Linked DNA regions of Homo sapiens. The protein of the gene in region 1 purifies or fractionates together with the protein of each later gene. This does not show direct contact. Each region holds a gene or a part of one and is shown on either strand. Other genes may lie near its edges. The genes, in order: CDC42SE2, TSC22D3 and HPN.

Region 1 (3,650 bases):
AGGCGTGTGTTACAGGGTGCTTTTTTAGTTTGCCTTGTGTTAACCAGCTCAGTTAGACCCTCTACCTTGTCACAGGGACAGAAGGCTTTCTGTATCCTGGGTTCTTGCTTTGGTGTGCTAGAAGAATTGGATCACACGTGGGCTTGGAGAAGGAGTGCAAAGTTTTATTGAGTGGAAGTAGCTCTCTGTCGATGAGGGAGCCAGAATGGAGATGGTTTTCCCCTGGAGTTGGGCTGCTAGGTGGCCCCAGCTCTCCTTTAACTGCCCCGGCCAAACTCCGCCTCATCCAGCCAGTTGATGGCCTGCTGGCATGCTGGTGTCTGTTGGTGTGCTCTTGTGCAGGCGTGTTCCCTCGACGTCTTTTCACCGTCTAACCGCTTGTGTCTTCTTCCGCTGATGTGCTCCTCTCGACGTTTGGCTGTCTATGTGTCTGCCTGCTAGGGTCTTGGGTTTTTATAGGCCCAGGATGGGGGCACGGCGGGCCAGGGTGGTCTTGGAAAATGCAACATTTGGGCCCAAAAGCAGGAGTGCCTGTCCTCACCTATGTTTGTCCGTGGGGGTGGAGCCCTAGCCATGGACCTGCCTTTCTCTACCCAGCACTTCCCTGTTCCCACTCCCATATCATTTAAAGGGACCACACTCTTCCCTTCCCAGCACTCCCGTATCAGTACAACATTTACATATGTTAGTTGTTTGTTATTGTTTAATGAATACATACTTATGTGAAGTATTCCATAAAAATTCCATGGACATCTGATTTCTTACCTTTTTGATTCCTGAGAAAAATTACATAAAACTTAATGGGGCTTTGTGGTCACCATAATGGAGGAATAGCTTGCTTGTTGGCATCAGGAAACAGATGTAAAGAATCACTAATAATTTTTGTTTCTTTACATTATACAAAGACATATCCTTGGTATTCTAAACAATATCAAGACTGCCTTATCTTAAAGCTGCTTGATCATCTGCTAAAGTTTTCTAAAATATTTACTGAAATAAAGTGCTGCATGCCGACTCTCCCACTTGTTCCCTATCACCCCCTGCTTTTGCACATTCCATGTGTGAAAAAGGAACAACCCAATATTGGGAAGAAAATAGAATGTATTTTTCTGAGTATAGTAGAATAATCATTTTTCTCCTCCTACTCCTTCATTTTAATATAGTACAATGCAGGGTATAATAGAGCCCCAATGTTTTGAGCCGTGGTATTCCAAAACTTAGTAACTTAGTAATGCTGTAGTTGCTGTTGCTAGATATAGCTAAGGTTGTAGATTTTTAACTGGATGGTTGCTGCCCTGCAATTTAATTTTTTAAAAAGATTTGTTAGGGCTGGGCGCAGTGGCTAACACCTGTAATCCTAGCACTTTGAGAGGCCAAGGCAGGGGGATTGCCTGAGCTCAGGAGTTCGAGACCAGCCTGAGCAACATGGTGAAACCCTGTCTCTACTAAAAAAAAAAATTAGCCGGTGTGATGTTATGTGCCTGAAGTCCTAGCTACTCCGGAGGCTGAGGCAGGAGAACTGCTTGAACCCGCAAGGTGGAGGTTGCAGTGAGCTGAGATTGCGCCGCTGTGCTCCAGCCTGGCGACAGGGCAAGACTCTATCTAAAAAAAAAAAAAGATTTATTAGCTGTTGACAGAACTATAGTGAATTCTTCACCAACTTATTGAGCATCAGAATACTGGTCAGCTTCTAAGGTAGCTTTAAAAAACAAGGAACCCTGATTTACAGAAAAAAAAAAAAAAGCCACTTTTCTATTCATATTATTTGCCTTCCCATCTAATGGTTTCCCACATAGCACTGATTTTTTGTAATGCTGCTTGTATCTGGAATGTGTTAATTTGTTTTTGTTTGTTTTGAGACGGAGTTTTGCTCTTGTCGCCTAGGCTGGAGTGCAATGGTGCGATCTTGGCTCACTGCAACCTCTGCCTCCCGGGTTTAAGCAATTCTCCTGCCTCAGCGTCCTGAGTAGCTGGAATTACAGGCACCCTCCACCATGCCCAGCTAATTTTTGTAGTTTCAGTAGAGATGGGGTTTCTCCATGTTAGCCAGGCTGGTCTCGAACTCCTGACCTCAAGTGATCCACCCTCCTCGACCTCCCAAAGTGCTGGGATTATAGCTGTGAGCCACCGCGCCCGGCCTTTTTTTTTTCTCTTACTCTTTTTTTTTTTTTTTTTTGAGAAGGAGTCTCGCTGTGTCTCCCAAGCTGGAGTGCAGTGGTGCGATCTTGGCTCACTGCAACCTCCGCCTCCTAGGTTCAGACAATTCTCCTGCCTCAGCCTCCCGAGTAGCTGGGACTACAGGCATGTGCCACCACACCCGGTTAATTTTTATATTTTAGTAGAGATGGAGTTTCACCTTGTTGGCCAGGCAGATGTCGAACTCCTGACCTCAAATGATCCTCCTGCCTCAGCCTTCCAAAGTGCTGGGAATTGCAGGCATGAGCCACCACACCTGGCCTTGGAATGTGTTATTTTGGACATGTACGCACTTACAGTACATTTGTAACAATAACACTCTGGTATTTCTACAATGAGCCAGGTAGTGGTGAGATAACAGTGAATACAACAGATGTCATCTCTACCATCATCTTGTCTCACTTTAGTGGAGGACATATTTACTGTACAAATAAGTATGTATGGTATCAGGTGGTGATAAGTGCACCGTGGAAAAAGAAAGCAAGAAAAAAGAGGATGACGTTGGAGAAATGGGGATATGAATTTAAATAGTGTGTTCAGGGAAGGCCTCTCAGATTAAGTGCTGTATAGGCACAAGTTTAAGGGAGTAAAATACACAAATACTTGGGGCAAAGCACTTAGAGTGAGTAGTAAGTGCAAGGTTGGGTGTGTGAGTGGAACATCAGAGAAGGCAGAGTGGCTGTGAGGCATGGGGCCAGTGGTGGGAATGAGGTCTAAGAGGTAACCAAGGGCCAGTTCATGTTTGGTCTTCCAGGTCATGAAAAGACTGGTTTTTATTCTTTGTGAAATAGGAAATCATTGAATGGTTTAGAGCAAAAAGCCAAAGTATGTGGAAGAACATACCTATTTTTTCTAGTGGTTTGACTTACTGTATGCTCAGACAGAGAGCACTGACAAACCATACTGCACACTGTAGCCCAGTGAGCCACTTCACTCCTTCATGCACATTTAGCCTCCTCAGCTGTCTGGAGTTGAGTATGGAATATGCTCTGCAATAAGGTTGCTTATTCCCTTTGTGGCTTTTCTTTCTGCCATTTGTTGTTGTTCTGATGTATAGTTTTAACCTATAATAGTCAGGGTGGGGGCATGAGGATATGTGCAAGTGATGGTGCTGGAGTTGCCACAGTGAAACAGAGGAAGTGCAGTGTGCTCAGTGTTTAGATGGTTCAAGGTTACTTCAAGGGAAGTGGTTGAGGAAACGGAGTGGGGATGGATCAGTTAGACAGCTAAGGATTGCTATAAGACCTTAGACATTTTAGAAAACATCAAAGTTAGGCCAGGTGCAGTGGCTTATGCCTGTAATCCCAGCACTTTGGGAGGCCGAGGCGGGCTGATTACCTGAGGTCAGGAGTTCGAGACCAGCCTGGCCAACATGGTGAAACCCTGTCTCTACTAAAAATACAAAAAATAGCTGGGCGTGGTGTCGCATGCCTGTAATCCCAGCTACTCGGGAG
Region 2 (3,650 bases), on another chromosome or scaffold:
CTTCATTCTTTTTATGGCTGAATAAAATTCCATTGTATGGATATACCTCTTTTGCTTATCCATTCATCTGTCAGTGGACACTTAGGTTGTTGCCCTCTTTTGGCTATTATGAAGAATGCTGCTATGAACACTGGTGTACAAGTATCTGTTCAAGTCCCTGCTTTTAATTCTTTGGGGTATATACCTAGGAGTGGCATTGCCCAGCACCTACTTTTCAACACAATTTTGTGGTCTACTGCTCGTAGTCAACACATACGTAGGAACCTGTCATAAAATGAGCAAATGTCTCAGGGCATTCCTTGAGGAGAATGCTCCCTCTCTAAGCCAGCTGCTGGTGCTAGTGATTACAACGAAGAGAAAGCTACAAAGTTTGGCAAAGTGATGGTGCTGCCTGGGAATGGACTTTTTATGGGGGAAATGACATGCTTTGGAGATTGCATCCATGAGTTGGAGACTGGCAAAAGTTTTAGTGTGTATCTCTCATGAATGGCCAAGGTCTAGCATACCTTTTTAAAGAGTAACATGTGACACCATTACTTGCCATTAACTACTTTGTATGGATTTGTTTATCAGACCTCTGGTCATGGTGACAGCCCACTGGGAATAGGGTCCTATGGGACTGGAATGTGGCAAAGCCAACTTTGGAGGAGAGAGGTAGAGAGATGGGGCTGGAGTCCATGGAAGGCCTAGCTTGGGCTGTTACAGCACGGGGCCTGGACAGCATGAGAGTTCAAAAGATCTGTTTGGAAAGTTCATGCTCTTAAAGAAAGGTGGGAAGCACAGAGCTTGAATTTCATCTACTCCTCAGTTTTTGCCAGGAGTGGACTATTATTTACTGAGTCCACACCTCAGCAAATAATGCTTTCCAGGGTGACCTTAGTTTTCTTCCCTGCCTGAAGAGAAGGTTAACACTCCTGCTTATATTTGCACTTGCAGATAATCCAACAAGCTCTCCATTCCAGGTAGAGGGTTGGCTCCTTTCCAGATCAGGTACTGAAGGCCAGGGAGTCTGGGTAAAATGGAGATGGATGTATCTGGCCAAGACTGCCAAGACCTCTAGGCATCCCGGGTGATGGAACCCTGCAGAGTTCTTGCCCCCACCTGGTGGGTGGGTTGGTTGGGAGGAATGAGTTTGGCCATGTCTGCACCTGGTGGTGGCTGTTGCGCTGTTTGCTCATCGTGATTCTGCTCCTACCTGAACTTTCTCTTCTTCTTATGTAAGCCATCCCTAGAGATAACTGTAAAGCCATAATCTGCCATGGCTGGCTGGGCTTATATAACAAATTGGTTGGTATCGTGCAATAGCCTCTTGAACCCTGGAGAAACCAATGTGCTAAGTTGAGACTAAAACATGGGTTCATTTGATGGGGTATTTTGTGTGCTCAGTGAACTCAGGGGAGAGGAGTCCATGACCACAGGGGTCAGAAAGATGAAATTTCCTTTTAAATAAAGAGAACAATAATGGCCCAGAACATACTGTGCTGTCCCAAAGTCTGCAATAATGGGACAAGGGTTAGGGCATTGCTGTAGCACCACAGCTTTGGCAGAAAAGGCCCTCCACAGAACCCCATGGGCTAGGAGGAGCCCCATGAAGGCCAGAAGGCTAGATCCCAGTTTCAGGGCAACCTAGGTTTGATGAAGAGTCAGGTCAGGGAAAATGTCTTTTGGAGGCCACTGTCTACCATGCTGAAATCCAGCTTAACTAGAGTTGGAGTGGGGCTAAGATGCGATCTGTGAGAGCAGAAAGCAAGCTTTTCTCGATTCTATTCCAGGCAGGAGGGAATTTCATCAGTAGGCAAGGCAAGTTCACTTGTACCTTCTAGCTGAAAATTCCTGCCCCAAAGTAGCTGTGGCCCTTCTGGAAACTGTATAAGAGGCATTAAGATCCCAGCCAGCACAGAAGACTGAATGGGAAGCTTCCCATTGTGCAGACACTAGCCCGAGGGAAAACAAGAGCTGGAAGCAGGCTGGATCACTGATGATCCAGGCTCACCATTGGCCTTCCTCTCCTGGGAGCCACTTTCCTCAAATAGGTCCAGCCAGAAATCGGGCCCCTGCCTATGGACAGAGCACACAGGGACCTTCCCCATCCTTCCTCGAAGGAAGACTTTACTCACAGAATAGGCTTGAGTATTCAACCCACTTCTTCTAATCTTCTCTTCAGGGGAGATGGAGAGCAGCTGTTCACAGCTTAGGGGTCTGGCCAGGATTCCCGCTCCGTGCTATCTAGGCTGGTGATTGGCTAGAGCTATCCCTAAGGAAGAAGGGGGTGAGAAGTGAGAGGAAAGGAAGCGACTCCAGCAGCTCCTTCCTGGCTTACCCCACTCCCAAGACACCCCTCCTTCAGCGCTGCCGTTTAGCCTCACTCCCAGACTAGGCTGGGCCTAGGCCAGCCTGAGGGCCCTGACTCATAACTAGCACATCTTATGTAACAGCCAGGTTACTGAGGCATCACACTTCTGCTTGCTCAGTGGTAGGCTTCCCTGGGGACAGGCATTTGGAAGCCTGCTGGGGGTCCAAGTCAAGCTCATCATACTTCCCAAGGAAAAGCCTACTCTCCCCAGTGTCAGGCAAGCAGTCTGCTCAGAGGCAAATGCCAGGCAGCAAAGCCTGACCCGGTCCCACACTCAGCCTCCACACTCAGCAGTAAATGTAAGCAGACAGGCAAGCTGGAGTGGACTTAATTTGGCTTGAGGCATTTTGGAGGTGGCAGGGAGGAACCTACTATCACCTGATAATGCACTGCTAAAGAAACTGCGTGGTGCATGGAGAGGCCCCAGAACAGGTCGCAGAAGTCCCTCTTCCTTTTGTATCTGCTTGTTGGTTCAGAAACTACTGGGTGGGTTGGGGTGGGGGGAGTTGTTGGGGGGGGGGCGGAAACTCCAGGCTGACTGACACCAGGTGAAAGGGTTTACCGGAAGGTGGAGGAGCTGTTTAAAGGAAGGCCTTTCAAGAGCCAATTCCCAGTCCACGCTCCATGAAGTCTCAAAGTCCCCAGGTTGACCTGAATTCACAGTGATTCTTAGCTCTCTGCCTGGCCTATTCAGAAAATTACATTACCGGCTTAGTGGAACTGAGCCCCCAGTGAAGTCAGTATTGCCAGATTCTATGACAGATTTCTCTAATAACAAATGTGACTATCTACAGCACAGAATACCCCCATCAATCTAATATTCCACTAGCTCAAGGTTTGTAACTAAACCAATAGCTCCTCTTCTTCTCTTCCTTTGTCTTTTCCCCAGCCTGTCTCACGTGTGTTGCCATCAAGTAAATGGCTCACAGGCTGTGAGTAGGTGGGGACACTGCTCTCCACTCCAAGAAATAGAGGAGAAACAGGGAAACAAAGTCAAAAAGGTGGTGTGGGAATTACCAGCAGGCATGATTTGTATCCAAAGCTGACTCATAAGTTCTTGGACAAGCTCAAGACTACCATCTCAGGGCTCAGAAGAGCTTGGCACCCTTAGTCCCCCAGATCACAGAATCCAGTGAAAATTAGGGGACCTGAGATGGAGATGCAGAATTTTCCTTTGTGGGACTCCTCCCAGGCTTCCAGCCCCTTTCTTCTCCCTATCCCCTCTGCCTTTTTGGTTCATAGGCTGTAGCAGTAAAAAAGAAAAAGAAACAAAGAAAACAAAACAAAGAAATAATAA
Region 3 (3,650 bases), on another chromosome or scaffold:
TTCCGCACAGTGAGAGCCAGGATGGCTTCGTGGCTGTACACAGGGGACCTGGCATCAAACCTGCCCAGGGTTCTGGACGCTGCTCTGCCTCTTCCAGGCTGTCACTGTGGGCACGTGACCCCACTTCTCTGAGCTATCTCAAAAACAGGAATCATAGTTGTGGGATTGAAATAAGGACTAAATGAGCTGATGTATTTAGAACGGTGCTTAGCACCTGGAGGCATCAATACAATTTGAGCTATTCTTCTTCTTCTTGAAAATAACTTTAAATTATTATTTTTAGAAGTAGGTGCTCAGTGGATGCCCATTTAATAGATAAGAAAGTTGAGGCTCAAAGATATGATGGCACCTGCCTTAGGTTCCAGCTAGGAAGGGGTAGGGTCAATATTTTTAAATGAGGCTGGCCAGACGCAGTGGCTCACTCCTGTAATCTCAGCATTTTGGGAGGCTGAGGAAGGAAGATCGCTTCAGCCCAGGAGTTTGAGACCAGCCTGGGCAACATAGCAAGACCACGTCGCTAAAAAAATTAATACATAAAATAAAATGAGGCTGGCAGATTTTCAAGTGGAGGGGCAAATTTGATCTTGCAACTGGGTACCATGAGAGAGGTCTGATTTAGGGGGTATCTAGGGGCAAAGCATCTAGAACAGCAGAAACGACTGAGGCAGCGAGGAAATGCCAGCGGCAGGGAAGAGAGCTACCAAGAGGGCAAAGGTTGGGGGTCACAGTCCCAAGAAGAGATGGCCCAAAGCAAAGACAGAAATACAAAAGCACAGTGTCACTGGGGAGGAGACATTCCCTAAGTGCCAGGAAAGTGCAGGGCGGAGGTGGAGACCGTGGCAGGTGGCCCGGCCATGCCCCCCTCCCAGCTGGAACCCTGGGGGAGCTGGGCACCTGGTTGTTCACACGGCAGGGGAGGAACAGCCCTGTCAACTGCTGGCCCCGGGAAACTGGGCCTGGGGAGGACATGCTTGGGCATAATAAGTTAGCCCTGGGGGCAGGGCAGAGCTGGCCTCGGGCCCAGACCCTGCCGCAATGAGGACAGGCCTGGCTGTGGCCCCAGCATGGTGTCTGTTGCAGGTGGCCGGACTGTGCCATGCTGCTCCAGACCCAAGGTGGCAGCTCTCACTGCGGGGACCCTGCTACTTCTGACAGCCATCGGGGCGGCATCCTGGGCCATTGGTGAGAGCGGTTCCTGTGCCTCTGACCTCCCCTGGCCCCTGCAGCCTCCAGCCTGCCTGCCCTCACCCCTCCCTTCTCTGCAGTGGCTGTTCTCCTCAGGAGTGACCAGGAGCCGCTGTACCCAGGTGAGTGGAGCAGGCTGGGACCCTCTGGGGGAGCCCTGGAGGACACGTGTATCTGGCGGGAGCTCAACAAGCGTATTTGTTGAATAAATGCACAAATGCATGCAGAAATGCTAATCATAATAGTGCATTTGTATTGAGTGCCTGCTATGTACCAGGCACTATTCTAAGCACCCCACATGTCTAACCCAGACTTTTTCAGACACCAGTGTATTACTCATGAGTGCCTCATAAAATTAAATTAGTGAGTTGGAAAACCATGTTTTTTTTTTAAGTATGAAATAGATTCGATTACAGACTATCACAGTACATCTCTCAGTAAGTAAAGGTTATGCTAATTTTTGTTTGTTTTTTTTTTTTTTTGCATCCATATACATGTAATCCCACTGCATCCCCACACTCTGAGGGTGGGACTGTTATTCTCCCTGTTTTACAGATGGGGAAACTGAGGCTTTGAGCAATGCAGCAGTTTGCCCCAGACTACAGAGCTATGGGCTACATCAGGATGTAAAAATGTGTTTCTTACTGCGTGGCATGGTGAAAACATGTTGGGGAGGCATGATATAAATTCAGTGGACCCTTCTAACTCTCCTAGGAGGTAGTTTTTTTGTTTGTTTGTTTTAAAAAAGAAAAAAGTCTTGCTCTGTCACCCAGGCTAGAGTGCAATGGTGCAGTCTCAGCTCACCGCAACCTCTGCCTCCCAGGTTCAAGCGATTCTCCTGCTTCAGCCTCCCAAGTACCTGGGAATACAGGCGTGTGCCACCATGCCCAGTTAATTTTTTGTATTTTTAGTAGAGATGAGATTTCACCATGTTGGCCAGGACGGTCTCTATCTCCTGACCTTGTGATCCACCCGCCTCGGCCTCCCAAAGTGCTGGGATTACAGGCATGAGCCACTGCGCCTGTCCCTGGTAATTAGCTCCATTTTACAGATGTGCAAAATGAGGACCAGAGAGGACATGCAGCTGGGGAACGAGGGGCCAGGAACAGCTCTTAGACTTATCCACTGTAAGTGTGTCTGCAGGCATGTGGAATGAATGGCCACACAAATAAATAGATAAAGAAACTAACTGTGGGATGAATGAATGAATCTTCCCAAATGCCAACTTCAAGCTGCCATTCCCTGATGCAGGACAGCAGGAAAAAAGGGGAAGTTGGGTGGTGGGATGTATTTTTCATGTCTGTGAGCCTCATCTAATTCCATAAAGGATTCAGTTCACACTAAAATCAGAAATGAAAATCCAGACAAGAAAAGCCAACATCAACATTAATCATCATTACCAGCACTTAGCATTTGTATGCACCAGCCAAGGCCTTGGGACCTTATGATATCAACTCATTAAGTCTTCCCAACAACCTGTTGTTTTTCTTTTCTTTTTTTTTTCTTTCTTTCTTTCTTTCTTTTTTTTTTTTTTTTTTTTGAGATGGGGTCTTGCTCTGTCGCCCAGGCTGGAGTGCAGTGACACGATCTTAGCTCATTGTAACCTACATCTCCTGGGCTCAAGCAATCCTCCCATCTCAGCCTTCTGAGTAGCTGGGACTATAGGCTAATGCCACCATGCCTACACAAAATTATTTTGTCAATAACAAATTATTGTTATTTTTATCTTTTTGAGCCAGAGTCTCGCTGTGTCGCCCAGGCAGGAGTGCTGTGGCGCGATCTTGGCTCACTGCAATCTCCATCTCCCAGGTTCAAGTGATTCTCCTGCCTCAGCCTCCTGAGTAGCTAGGACTACAGGCACGTGCCACCACACCCAGCTAATTTTTGTATTTTTAGTAGAGGCGGGGTTTCACCATGTTGGCCAGGATGGTCTCAAACTCCTGACCTCAGGTGATCCACCCGTCTCGGCCTCCCAAAGTGCTGGGACTACAGGCATGAGCCACCACACCCAACCTCATTTTTTAAATTTTTAGTAGAGATGGGATCTTGCTACATTGCCCAGTCTGATCTTGAACTCCTGAGCTCAAAGCAGTCCTCTCAGATCAGCCTCCCAAAGTGCAGGGATTACAGGTGTGCACCACCACAACCCATTTTCCTATGGGGATGCTGAGGCACAGAAAGGCTGAGTGACTTGCCCCAGGTCATGGAGCTAGTCAGTGTCAGGGCTGGGATTTGAACCCAGGCAGCCTGCGTAGTAACTGTATATAGTGTCTACACTTGATTGCTTGTTAAAAAAAAAAAAAAAGAACAGCTGAATTCATTGCCATAGTAAAGACTGACATATGCCAGGCCCTGGCGGCAGCCTTTACCCAGCAGGCCTATGAAGTTAGGGCTGTTACATCCCAACATTTTGCATTTGGGGGAAATTGAGTCCCAGTGAAGCAAACTGACTTGCCCGAGGCTGA

What was found.
Region 2: the proteins of CDC42SE2 (region 1) and TSC22D3 purify together in Homo sapiens (affinity purification with mass spectrometry; 2 studies listed by BioGRID and IntAct, with this or other methods). This does not show direct contact.
Region 3: the proteins of CDC42SE2 (region 1) and HPN purify together in Homo sapiens (co-immunoprecipitation; one large-scale study listed by IntAct). This does not show direct contact.

Annotation. Positions count from the first base shown.
Region 1 is NC_000005.10:131,361,538-131,365,187, forward strand, and holds part of CDC42SE2 (CDC42 small effector protein 2), read left to right. Parts: intron 1-3,650. UniProt on the Homo sapiens protein: Probably involved in the organization of the actin cytoskeleton by acting downstream of CDC42, inducing actin filament assembly. Alters CDC42-induced cell shape changes.
Region 2 is NC_000023.11:107,765,677-107,769,326, reverse strand, and holds part of TSC22D3 (TSC22 domain family protein 3), read left to right. Parts: intron 1-3,650. UniProt on the Homo sapiens protein: Protects T-cells from IL2 deprivation-induced apoptosis through the inhibition of FOXO3A transcriptional activity that leads to the down-regulation of the pro-apoptotic factor BCL2L11.
Region 3 is NC_000019.10:35,048,210-35,051,859, forward strand, and holds part of HPN (serine protease hepsin precursor), read left to right. Parts: intron 1-1,053; exon of another isoform or gene 1,054-1,080; coding exon 1,081-1,182; intron 1,183-1,265; coding exon 1,266-1,307; intron 1,308-2,236; coding exon of another isoform or gene 2,237-2,312; intron 2,313-3,650. UniProt on the Homo sapiens protein: Serine protease that cleaves extracellular substrates, and contributes to the proteolytic processing of growth factors, such as HGF and MST1/HGFL. Plays a role in cell growth and maintenance of cell morphology.